4 separate regions of the Homo sapiens genome follow, and all the other regions are linked to region 2. Evidence: fine-mapped expression QTL. A gene starts in region 2. Each other region holds a variant in brackets. All regions are shown on one strand. Distances are between the middles of the regions. Region 1 overlaps PCM1 (pericentriolar material 1). Region 2 holds the start of PCM1 (pericentriolar material 1). Region 3 overlaps LOC124901894 (a long non-coding RNA gene). Region 4 overlaps PCM1 (pericentriolar material 1).

The links.
Region 1: its variant is fine-mapped to the expression of PCM1 in whole blood (TOPMed, PIP above 0.99). The same link has a PIP of 0.9 or more in gastroesophageal junction, tibial nerve and visceral fat.
Region 3: its variant is fine-mapped to the expression of PCM1 in whole blood (TOPMed, PIP 0.96).
Region 4: its variant is fine-mapped to the expression of PCM1 in whole blood (INTERVAL, PIP 0.91).

Annotation. Positions count from the first base shown.
Region 1 is chr8:17,955,067-17,957,566 of GRCh38, reverse strand. It overlaps PCM1 (pericentriolar material 1), which reads right to left. Exons shown (of 39, transcript NM_006197.4): 10 at 1,914-2,097; 11 at 790-963; 12 at 146-303; 13 at 1-27. Among named protein-coding and RNA genes, the nearest start is that of PCM1, 33 kb to the right of the region's middle. The variant C/A (reference allele first, on the strand shown) is at 989.
Region 2 is chr8:17,921,561-17,924,324 of GRCh38, reverse strand. It overlaps PCM1 (pericentriolar material 1), which reads right to left and starts at 1,337. Exons shown (of 39, transcript NM_006197.4): 1 at 1,137-1,337. LOC124901867 reads left to right here. Exons shown (of 4, transcript XM_047422505.1): 2 at 98-168; 3 at 559-816; 4 at 979-2,764. The coding sequence ends at 1,661. RefSeq lists enhancers at 310-369, 1,520-1,969 and a silencer at 831-1,125.
Region 3 is chr8:18,033,695-18,036,458 of GRCh38, reverse strand. LOC124901894 (a long non-coding RNA gene) reads left to right here. Exons shown (of 2, transcript XR_007060836.1): 2 at 2,293-2,471. Among named protein-coding and RNA genes, the nearest start is that of ASAH1, 49 kb to the left of the region's middle. The variant G/A (reference allele first, on the strand shown) is at 1,569.
Region 4 is chr8:17,995,395-17,997,894 of GRCh38, reverse strand. All of the region lies in intron 29 of PCM1 (pericentriolar material 1), which reads right to left. Among named protein-coding and RNA genes, the nearest start is that of PCM1, 74 kb to the right of the region's middle. The variant C/G (reference allele first, on the strand shown) is at 1,015.

The DNA.
Region 1 (2,500 bases), 33 kb before region 2:
GTTCCCCTTCTCTATTATATCGACAATCTGCTGAAAACATGTATAATTAAAACCAGTAACTTTTAAAGGAAAGAGCACACATGAACGAAAACCCACTTTGTAAGAATAACACAGCAAAATTATATGTAAATACAGTCAGTCATACCTAAAGAAGGAGGCATGTTTAGAGCCCTTATGTTGGCAGCAGATCTGTTGTTAATTTCACAATTAGAATTAACTGTTCGCCCATCTCTATTATTAGAAACACACTGTGCATTACTATGACTATTTACTTCATTCCAAGTGGAAGCTACTTGTGGATTTCTAGAAGAAAGAAAACAGCCTGAAGTCATTTAAGGCACAAAAAAAGAGAGAAAGAAATCCAAGTTTAGAACTGCTAATAAAATAACACCAAACCAAGCACATTGTTGGCTATTCCATTTAAATTCAAATTGAATAATCGACTCCTGCTTTTCATTAACTTCTGCATATGTGCTATTTAAGTAGAAAAACATCTGAAAAAATGAAAATTACGCCTAAAAAGAAAAAGACAGCAAAATGCTAAGTTAGATACATCTCATGATTTACTCGAATTCAGTCTAACAAAGGGCAAATTTACTGAACTATTGTACTCCATACTTCCCTATTCATCTTTCTTCACAGGGCAGAGATGATTACACTGACCAAAATAGTAGAAAGCTTAAATAAAAGGCAAATAGTAAATACTACAACGAAGTATTTTTGTTCCCACATTATAAGTATCAAGACAGAATGAATATGCTGGAAAAACATCCCCAGAAAAGTTCTTACCGAATGTTAGTAACAGGCTCGGAATTTTCATGCTCAGAATCATATTCTGACTCTTCAGTTTCTTCATCTTTCCTGTTTTCATTCACAGCATCTGTCATCATGTCTGACGTTTGTTCATAATAATGAACTAATTCTCTTAGCTCATTCAATCTCTTTCGAACTTCATTTAACTTCCTGATAAACAAAAAATTTATGTATA[C/A]GATTTACACCCATTTTAGCAAAATAATACAGACATTATTTTCATATCATAGCAGCTAACAGAAACAAAATTTAGACCTAATGGAATATCCACCTAGTGAACTCTCCAGGGGGTATGACTGTAAAATAATGAGGTTAATGCCAAGTACAGCTTACTCAAAATCTCACATTATTTTCTTATGCTGTTTTAGGGACAAAAGTGTAAGAAAACCAATTTCAATTTAATTGTTCATTTTAAGCAGGTGTAAATGTTAATAGCAGAAAACCTGATGTCAAAAAGATTTCTAGTTTCTCAAGTATCAAAAGTGTGAAGTACTACTAAATACTACCTCTCAGGAAAATCAGGTATACAGACATTACTGAGCATGTATGGAAGGTTCTTGATTTGTCTGCACATATGAGATCTATACACTACATACTACGTTTACCAAAAATAAAAATTAAGTTAGCTGAGTTCTTACTGTAAGTGCCAGGAACTGCGCCAACGTTTTTTAATGAAAACATATTTATCAACAGGTATATTATCATCCCTATTTTGCAGATGAGGAAATACAGGCTTAGTAAGGCTAAGTTATTTGTACAGGGTAACACAGCCTTGTGTGATACAATTTCAGGGCTGTCTGATTCTACAGCCTGGTCTCTAAACCATCTGAATATAGAAATATTTTAACTGTAATCTTATTTTTGATCCTTTATTTGAAAAACAAGAAAGTAACATCAGTTCACAGAAACTATGTTACATCACATCTCTTAGACAACTCAAATTATGCCCACACAACACACACACGCCTCTTCTACCTATCCCTTAAGAATGTTTACAACAATATTAAATAAATCTCGTTTTGCAGAATTTTCAACATAAAAAAAAAAACAGAATTTATCCCTATTATTTAACTTCATGTAAACAATGATTATAAATGTTTTACTGGAGTTTTTCAGATGGATTGAGGTGGCCTTCGTTTTCACTCTCATTCTGAGATACTAGAGAAGCAGTAGGATAAGGAACAGATGATGTGAGGCTATTGGATTCTCCATTGACAACCGGTGCCAAGCCTACAGAAGCAGAGGGAGCTGAAGTACTTCTCTGATCGACACTCCTTTGTGGAGAGGCTGAAGAAGGCACAACAACAAAAAATTTTTTTTAATCACCAGTTACCATAAACAAACACATACAGTTGGCTTGGATATTGAAAACTAAAAAGTAAAAATTAACAACTTAATTTCTGCAGATTTAAATTTCAGAAAATTGTTTATTAACTTACTCCACAATTAAACACATCAAAATGTACAAAGACTTGTTTACCTCTTTCTTCCACAGGTTCTATCACCTTTACAATATAACCACTGGGTTAAAACAGAAAGGAAAGAAAAAAGATGGAAATTGACAAGAATAATGATATTCTACCTTGGAAAACTAACTAGAGAAGTACTCTAGTTAGTTTTAACTAACGAGTAAACTTGGTAACTAACTTGATAAACTTGGTTCTAGGTTAAGTTAAACAGGGCCACTATG
Region 2 (2,764 bases):
TTAAAAGCTACTGTACTTCATAATAAAATAACCTCGTCACTACATAAATACCAGGTTTACCTTCAATTCAAAAACTCTGTATTATATTGGTGTTCAGGGGTCCTCACCAGGAAGGTGCTAGGGAAAGAAAGGAGCAGGTGCACCCGAGGCTCTGCAACACCCACTCCGGTAACCAGAGAACACCAGCAGGCGGAGTCTGGAAAGCGGTTATGGGGCGGGGGTGGTAGGGGCGCCCAGAAAGCCCGCTCCTTCCAGCGCCCAAACACGAACCGTCACCCGTAAGACACACAATACAGACCTCAACTCGCTCAAAAAAACAAAACAAAACAAAAAAAATTAAACCAGGCGAGTTCCTGGGGAGTAGGCTGAGGGATGCAAAGTTGGCGCGCCCAGCCTCCCTGGCGGGGCCTAATCCCCAAACGCCAGTTTCTGTAAACCAAACAACGTTTCCCCCAGTCCCACTTGGCATTTAGTCTTTCCCGGTTCTAGGCCCAATTCTAACTAGATAGGTAGGAAGGGAGAAAGAAGGGGCAATAATTACTCCATTAACCTTCCCAGGAACGCCTCCCCCGGCCCATCGGCTCCCACAGCACCAGAGACGGCGGAAATCCTGCAGCTCACAGCCCAACTGCAACTCTTCAGAGTCGCGTCGCTCCTCATCCGCCCTTCTACACCCCAAACTCTGGACACCGAGAGTTCCACAGAGGGAACGCGGGGAAGAACTATGGCCACCAAGGCCTGTTTCTCTAAGAACTCGACCCAGTGCCCCTAGCACCCAAACCAGAGTCCCCGCTCCGCTTCCTCCGCCCGCAAGGGGTATAGCCGGAGCCACCGGGACGCAGAACAGCCTCCCCGACAGGGCCAGCAGGAGGGGCGAGGAGGCAAGAAGGGAGTCCTGCAATCACCAACGCGTCGCGAGGTGCTCACCCGGGGATCCCGGCGATCAGTCCTGAGGGAGCGGGCGGACTGACCGCCTAGGGCACGGGAAGCCCGGGGCAGGAAGACCCGGGAACCTACAGAGGAGGCGTGGGCCCGTGGCCAGACCCAACAGGGCCGAGTGTCCCGGAGCCGTTACTCTCCCGCCTCTGGGGCGCGCCGCCCTAGGTTGCCAAGGGCTGGGGACGCGCAGGCATTACCTCTACAAGAAGCAGCCTCTCCTGTCAAAGGCAGAGCGACAGTCAGCCCCCACGACCCGCCGCCGGCAGCGGTCGGCCCTCGGAGACCGCAGCAGAGAGGCCCACACGTTTCCTGGCTGCCTCGGCCCCAGTGGCCGCCTTTTCGACCTCAGCTACGCAGCGCCAACCGCCGCAGCCACCGCCATCTTAGGATCTCATTGTGGTGGGAGAAGAGGGGCGGGGGTACTGCAGAGGGGGCAACGCGCGGCGGGACATGCGCCGTCTCCTCGGCAACGGCCGCGCGGGGGCGAGAACTCGCCCGGGCGGGAGCCGCAATGCGAGCTAGACTGGAGTCATGTGACCCGCCGGAGTCTGTGGTGTCGCTTCTGGCTCTTTAAGCCGAAAAGAGATTACACCAACGAATCCGCCCCCACCCGCCCAGGAACTATGTATCCCAGAATGCCAACTAGACCTCGCGTTCTAAACGCCTGCCGGCCACAGGTGGAGGACTACAAATCCCAGCATGCCGTGCGCTTCCGGCGCTGATCGCGGAGCGTGGGGCCCTAGGCCTATGCGGAAGTGCATTGATCCCTCAGCCCGTGGAGAAAGAGCGGAGGCGCTGTGCGGTTTTCCGTGGGGGTGTCAGCTCCGGCCCGTGCCGGAAGAAGGAGCCAAGACCGGGATCGCTTTTTTGCCCCTTCCTCACCCCACATTCGGTCACGAAGAGGTGGAAACAAAAGGACACTTACAATGTAGTCCAACCTCCTGATTTTACATATGAGGGGATTGTTCCACGGAAGTTAAACAATTTGCCAGACGTCATTATGTATCTACTGAGTGAGAGAATCATAAATATTGTTGATAGTTAACGCCACTTTTGGTTAATGTCCCTTTTCCTTAAAAGAGCCAGATGATTTTAATCCAAACTTAATTTCAGTAAATTTTCTCTGAACTATCTTTTTATTTATACTCTCCTGTTACAGCTCTATTAAGATTAATAAATTGGCAGGTCCTCCCTTTAAAAAACAAAAATCAATAAAGTCACAAGGCCTTCAATGTGCCTGACTGGAAAGGTAAAACACCTGTCAGTTTTAGTTGAGTGCAAGGGCATTCTTCTAGTTTTACGCAGTTTATAATTATGGAATAACTTTTTAAGCAAAATAAAGGTAAAAAGAAGAATTGCATTCTGGGTTTCAACAACAAAAACAAATTGTTCCCAAAATAGTAGGTCTGCATCTCAGTACGCAATTCACATAAAGCTCTTCTATCCCACTGCAATCTGCCACCGTAGGTTCAGTCGTGAGTGCATTGATCGTTGGTCAGACACTTTTTCCTCATATTCTGTGTGTGTATCGCTAACTACTGCGGTAGCAAAAATATAGTCCCTGCCCTTGAAGAGCTCATATTTTAGTGAAGGATGCGGAAGTGGAGTGTGATGTAAATAAAGTTTGTGTTGTAAGAAAAAGTGCTGTGGGAGCTCAGAACACAGCAGCTAAACGCTCAGGTGTTTATTGTAGTCCAGAATGCCCTATCCTAATTCCACCACTCCAAGATCCTGGACAAGCGACGTGCCTTTCTGAGCCTTAATTGCCCCATCTATGAAATGAGGGGGAAGGAATGATACTGCCTACCTTGAAAGGATTTTTTAA
Region 3 (2,764 bases), 110 kb before region 2:
TTCCATTTCCTCCAAATTATAAGTTCAATGCAATTCTAATAAAACTCCCAGCAGGTTTTTGGTTTGTGAAAACTGAAATTGAAAATGCAAAACATGAAAATGAAAAGAACATAGCCAAAAATGTCTGCAAAAGAACAAAGTTAGAGGACTTAACGTTTCTTTTTCTTTCTTTTTTTTTTTTTTTTTTTTTTTTTTTGGGGGAGCAAGATGAAGACAAACTTTATTGAGTGTTAGAACAGCTCAGAGGAGATTTTTTTTTCTGTATCCCAAGTCATCAAGCAAGGACTTACGTTTCTTAATTTCAAGACTTACTATAAAGCTATAGTAGTCAAGACAGTGTAATACTGATGTAACAATAGACATATAAATCAACAGAACATAACAGAAATTCCAGACATAGAGCCACACATATATGGTCAATTGATTTCCACAAAGGTAACAAGACAGTAGGAAAAGTCCTTTGAACAAATGAAGGCACTGGATTTCTATATAGGAGAAAAATAGAACCTGATCCTTACCTCATACCATACCAAAAAAAAATTACTTAAAATAGATGATAGAGCTTAAATATGTAGGACAAAGAATGATTATCCATATATTTTATATATATAAAGATTCTTAGAGCTTAAGATATTTATTGTTAGGATTTCTAGCAATTAAATTGCTATGCCAAAGACGGTACCTTGAACTTTTTAGTGCACGTTGCCAAACTACAGGTGGCATCAATTTTTCTGGACCTTTTAGTGGGAAATTAGGGCAGGGGTCTCTTTCCAGAAACCCTTAGGAGATATTCTTCAATTTGACTAACAGCCTAGTTTTTCTGAAGGTTTTCCAATGATTACTTTAAAATCTATTGTTGTATGTTATCATTAGATTCACTGCATTTTAAACTTAAATTTCATGTTAATTTCAAATTATATCAATCAACTAATATGACTTACCTATTAGCAGACTTGGAATAGATAAGCATATATTTCATTTTCCTCAGCTGAAACTTTTCTCTCTGAAAAGTACTATTATAGGAATATTCCACTGTTTTTGTTAAAACTGTTGAAGTGGAGAAGAATCCATTTGCCATAGTTAAATAAGATGTCCAATCCTTCTTAGTAAAACATACTGATGACCTTGAATCTCTCTTCGAAATACTCAAATTTACTTGTTTATGTAACAGATATTGAAAAATTTCTACATTCCAGGATCTGCTTAAAGACAAGAAATATTGCAGTGAACAAAGCAGAGAAAAATTCCTACCCTTAAAGAGCTTACATTCTAACTGAGGGGGTGGAGAAAGACATAAAATAAGTAAAATATTGTTAACTGTGGATAAGTAATATGGAGAAAAATAAGCTGAGGGCAAGAAGATAAAAATAAACTGTGGGGAGGTGCAATTTTAGGTTGGATACATAAAGAAGATTCACTAAACGTCTGCCATAAAAATATCTGAGGAAAGAACATTCTAAGTAGAGGTAACAGTAAATGCAAAAGGCCCTGCATGCAATGATGCCTGGCAGGTCTGAACAGCAAAGAGGTCAGTGTGACTGAAGCACACGGAAAATAAGAAAGGAAGA[G/A]GTAGAGAATTGTCCTGTAGGGCCTTCTGAAGTCATTTTTGCTTTTACTTGGAATAAAATAGGAAGCTACTGGTATCATCTGAACAGTATCACTTTGGTTGCTGTGCTGAGACTAGATTATAGAAAGTCTAGGAAGTGACGGGTCTGGCCATTAGGAGGCTACTACAGGAATCGAGGCAAGAGATAAGAGTGACTTGAATAAAGATGGCAGTGGAAGAGGTAGTGAAAACCAGCTGGATTCGACTTACTTTTTAAAGGTGTAGCTGACCATATTTACTGAAGGGTTGGATGAAGGGTTTGGGATACAGAGTTGAGCCACAGACAATGTCAAGGGGTTTGTCCTAAGAAAGTAGAAGGATGGAACTGGCACGTACTAAGATGAGAAGACTAGAACAATCAGATGTGGGGCAACCAACAACTCCGTTTTAACACGTCAATATCTAGTATCTATGTGAACCTTAACATAAACCTTAACATACTTCCATATGAATTTTTTGAATCTTACCATACAGAAAGACTCTAACGCCAAGGGTGGCAAACTAACTTAAAGTATCATTTAGTTGTTTAAGGTTGGAGAATGGACTACAATAACTGACTAGTTTTTCAAAGCCTAGGAGTGGGAAGAAAAACAGTTTATTGTAGTATCCTTCTTCTGTGTTGTCGACTAAGTAACATGCCCCAAAAAGACTTGAGGAACAAGAAGTCCCTGTTTTTTTTTTTTCAGGCAGTGCCACCATGCCAAAGAGAAGTCCAGAAGCCTCCCAAGTCATAGAAAATGGACAAAAGTTGGGGTCACCTGAATCCTTGTAATTTAATCCCATTTTTGTTATAAAATAAAGAGTTACTATGGTTTTTCACTTTCTTATTCGCTGGGACTTCAATAAACACCGATAATTATTTGTATAATTGCTCATTCACTAATTTCCATTTTTAATTCTTTTCGTAAGTCTTCCTTTGAAAATACTAAAAGCATCCTTGGATCTAGGATAATTCTTCCTGCATTTCACAGATAGGAAAATGAAGAACAGCAGGGTTTTTGGGTTTTTTTTTGCATTGTACATTTCCAAATGTCATAGAAACCCTATCTCTTTGTTGCTTTATTATAATACTGTCCAAATATTTCCTGGTAAGGAATTGTAGGTTAAAACCAAAAGCATTCTAACATATATCTAATGTATATATGACTGCTAATATAG
Region 4 (2,500 bases), 74 kb before region 2:
CCAGCTACTTTTTTTTTTTTTTTGTATGTTGTAGTAGAGGCGGGGTTTCACCGTGTTGGCCAGGCTGGTCTCAAACTCCTGACCTCAAGTGATCACCCGCCCCAGCCTCCCAAAGTGCTGGGATCACAGGTGTGAGCCATAGCACCTGGCCGGGAATTCAGAATTCTATATTCATAGATAAATTTAATAAACAGATTGAGATAATTTAAAAGAATCAAGCAGAAATTCTAGAGTTGAAAAACGCAACTGACATACTAAAGAATGCATCAATCTCTCAATAGAATTGATCAAGCTAAAGAATTAGCTTGAAGACAGGCTCTTTGAAAACACACAACTTGAGGAGACAAAAGAAAAAAAAAGTAAAACACAATAAAGCACACCTACAGGATCTGCAAAATAACCTCAACAGGACAAATCTAAGTTATTGGCCTTAAAGAGGGGGTAGAGAGAGACAGAGGTAGTAAGCTTAACAACATTCAAGTACAAGAAGGTTACAGAAAACCAGGATAGTTTAATCCAAATAAGACTATCTCAAGGCATTTAATAATCAAACTGCCAAACATCAAGGATAAAGAAAGGACCCTAAAAGCAGCAAGAGAAAAGAAACAAATAACATATAATGGGGTTCCAATATATCTGGCAGTAGACTTGTCACTAGAATCCTTACAGGTCAGGAGAGAGTGTCATGACATGTTTCAAGTGCTGAAGGAAGAAAACTTTTACCCTAGAATAGTACATCCAGCAAAAATATCCTTCAAACACGAAGGAGAAATACTTTCCCAGACAAAAGCTGAGGGATTTCATCAACACCAGACCTGTCTGACAAGAAATACTAAATACTTTATTTCCATCTAAAAGAAGACATTAATGAGCAGTAAGATATCGTCTGAAGGTACAAAATTCACCAGTAATAGAAAGTACACAGAATATTATAACACTGTAATTGTGGTGTGTAAACTACTCTTAAGTGGAAAGACAAAATGATGAACCAACCAAAAATAGTAGCTACAACAA[C/G]TTTTCAAGACATGGTACAGTAAGATATAAAGAGAAACAACAAAGAGTTAAAAAGCAGGGAAACAAAGTTAACATTTGCATAAGTTTTCATTTTGTTTGCTTGTTTGTTTATGCAATCAGTGTTATCGGTTTAAAATACTGAGTTATAAGACAGTATTTGCAATCCTCATGGTAACCTGAAATCCAAAAACATACATATAACAGATACGAAAACAATGGATGTTAAAAAACAAGAAAAGCATGAGCAAACCAAACCCAAAATAGAAGAAATAATAAAGATCAAAGCAGAAATAAATGAAATTGAAATAAAATACAAAAGAGCAACGAAACAAAAAGTTGGTATTTTAAAAGATACATAAAATTGGCAAACCATTAACCAGACTAAGAAAAAAAGACAAAAAACCCAAATAATATCAGAGATGAAAAAGGAGACATTACAACCGATACCTCGGAATTCAACAACACATTAAAAAGATGATCCATCGTGACCAAGTGGGATTTATCCCAGGGATGCAAGGATGGTTCAACATAGGTAAATCAATCAATGTAATACATCATATCAACAGAATGAAGGACAAAACCCATATGATCATTTTAACTGATGCTGAAAAACCATTTGATAAAATTCAACATCCTTTCATGATAAAAGCCCTCAAAAAACTGGGTATAGAAGAAACATACCTCAACATACTAGAAGCCATATACAACAGACCCACAGCTAGTATCATACTAAATGGGGAAACACTGAAAGCCATTCCTTTGTGATCTGGAACACAACAAGGATGTCCACTTTCACCACTGTTATTCAACATAGTACTGGAAGTCCTAGCTAGAGTAATCAGACAAGAGAAAGAAATAGAGGGGATCCAAACTGGAAAGGAAGAATCAAATTATCCTTGTTTGTATATGATATATATATAATCTTATACTTGGAAAAGCCTAAAGACTCCACAAGAATACTATTAGAACTGATCAACAAATTCAGTAAAGTTGCAGGATACAAAGTCAACACACAAAAATCAGTAGCATTTCTATATGCCACCAGTAATCTCATTTACAACAGACACAAATAAAATTAAATACCTAAGAATTAACCAAATAAGTGAAAGATCTCTACAATGAAAACTATAAAACACTGATGAAAGAAATTTAAAAAGACACAAAAAGGGAAAGATATTCCATGTTCATGGATTGGAAAAATCAATATTGTTAAAATGTCTGTACTCCCCGAAGCAATCTACAGATTCAATACAATTGTGATCAAAATACCAATGACATTCTTCACAGAGAAAAAAGAATCCTAAAATTTATAGGAACCACAAAAAAAGCTCAGAACAGCCAAAGCTATCTTGAGCAAAAAGAACAAAACTGGAAGAATCACATTAACCTGCCTTCAAATTATACCACAGAGCTATAGTAACCAAAACAGCGTGGTACTGGCATACAAACAACAGAAACACAGACCGACAGAACAGAACAGAGAACC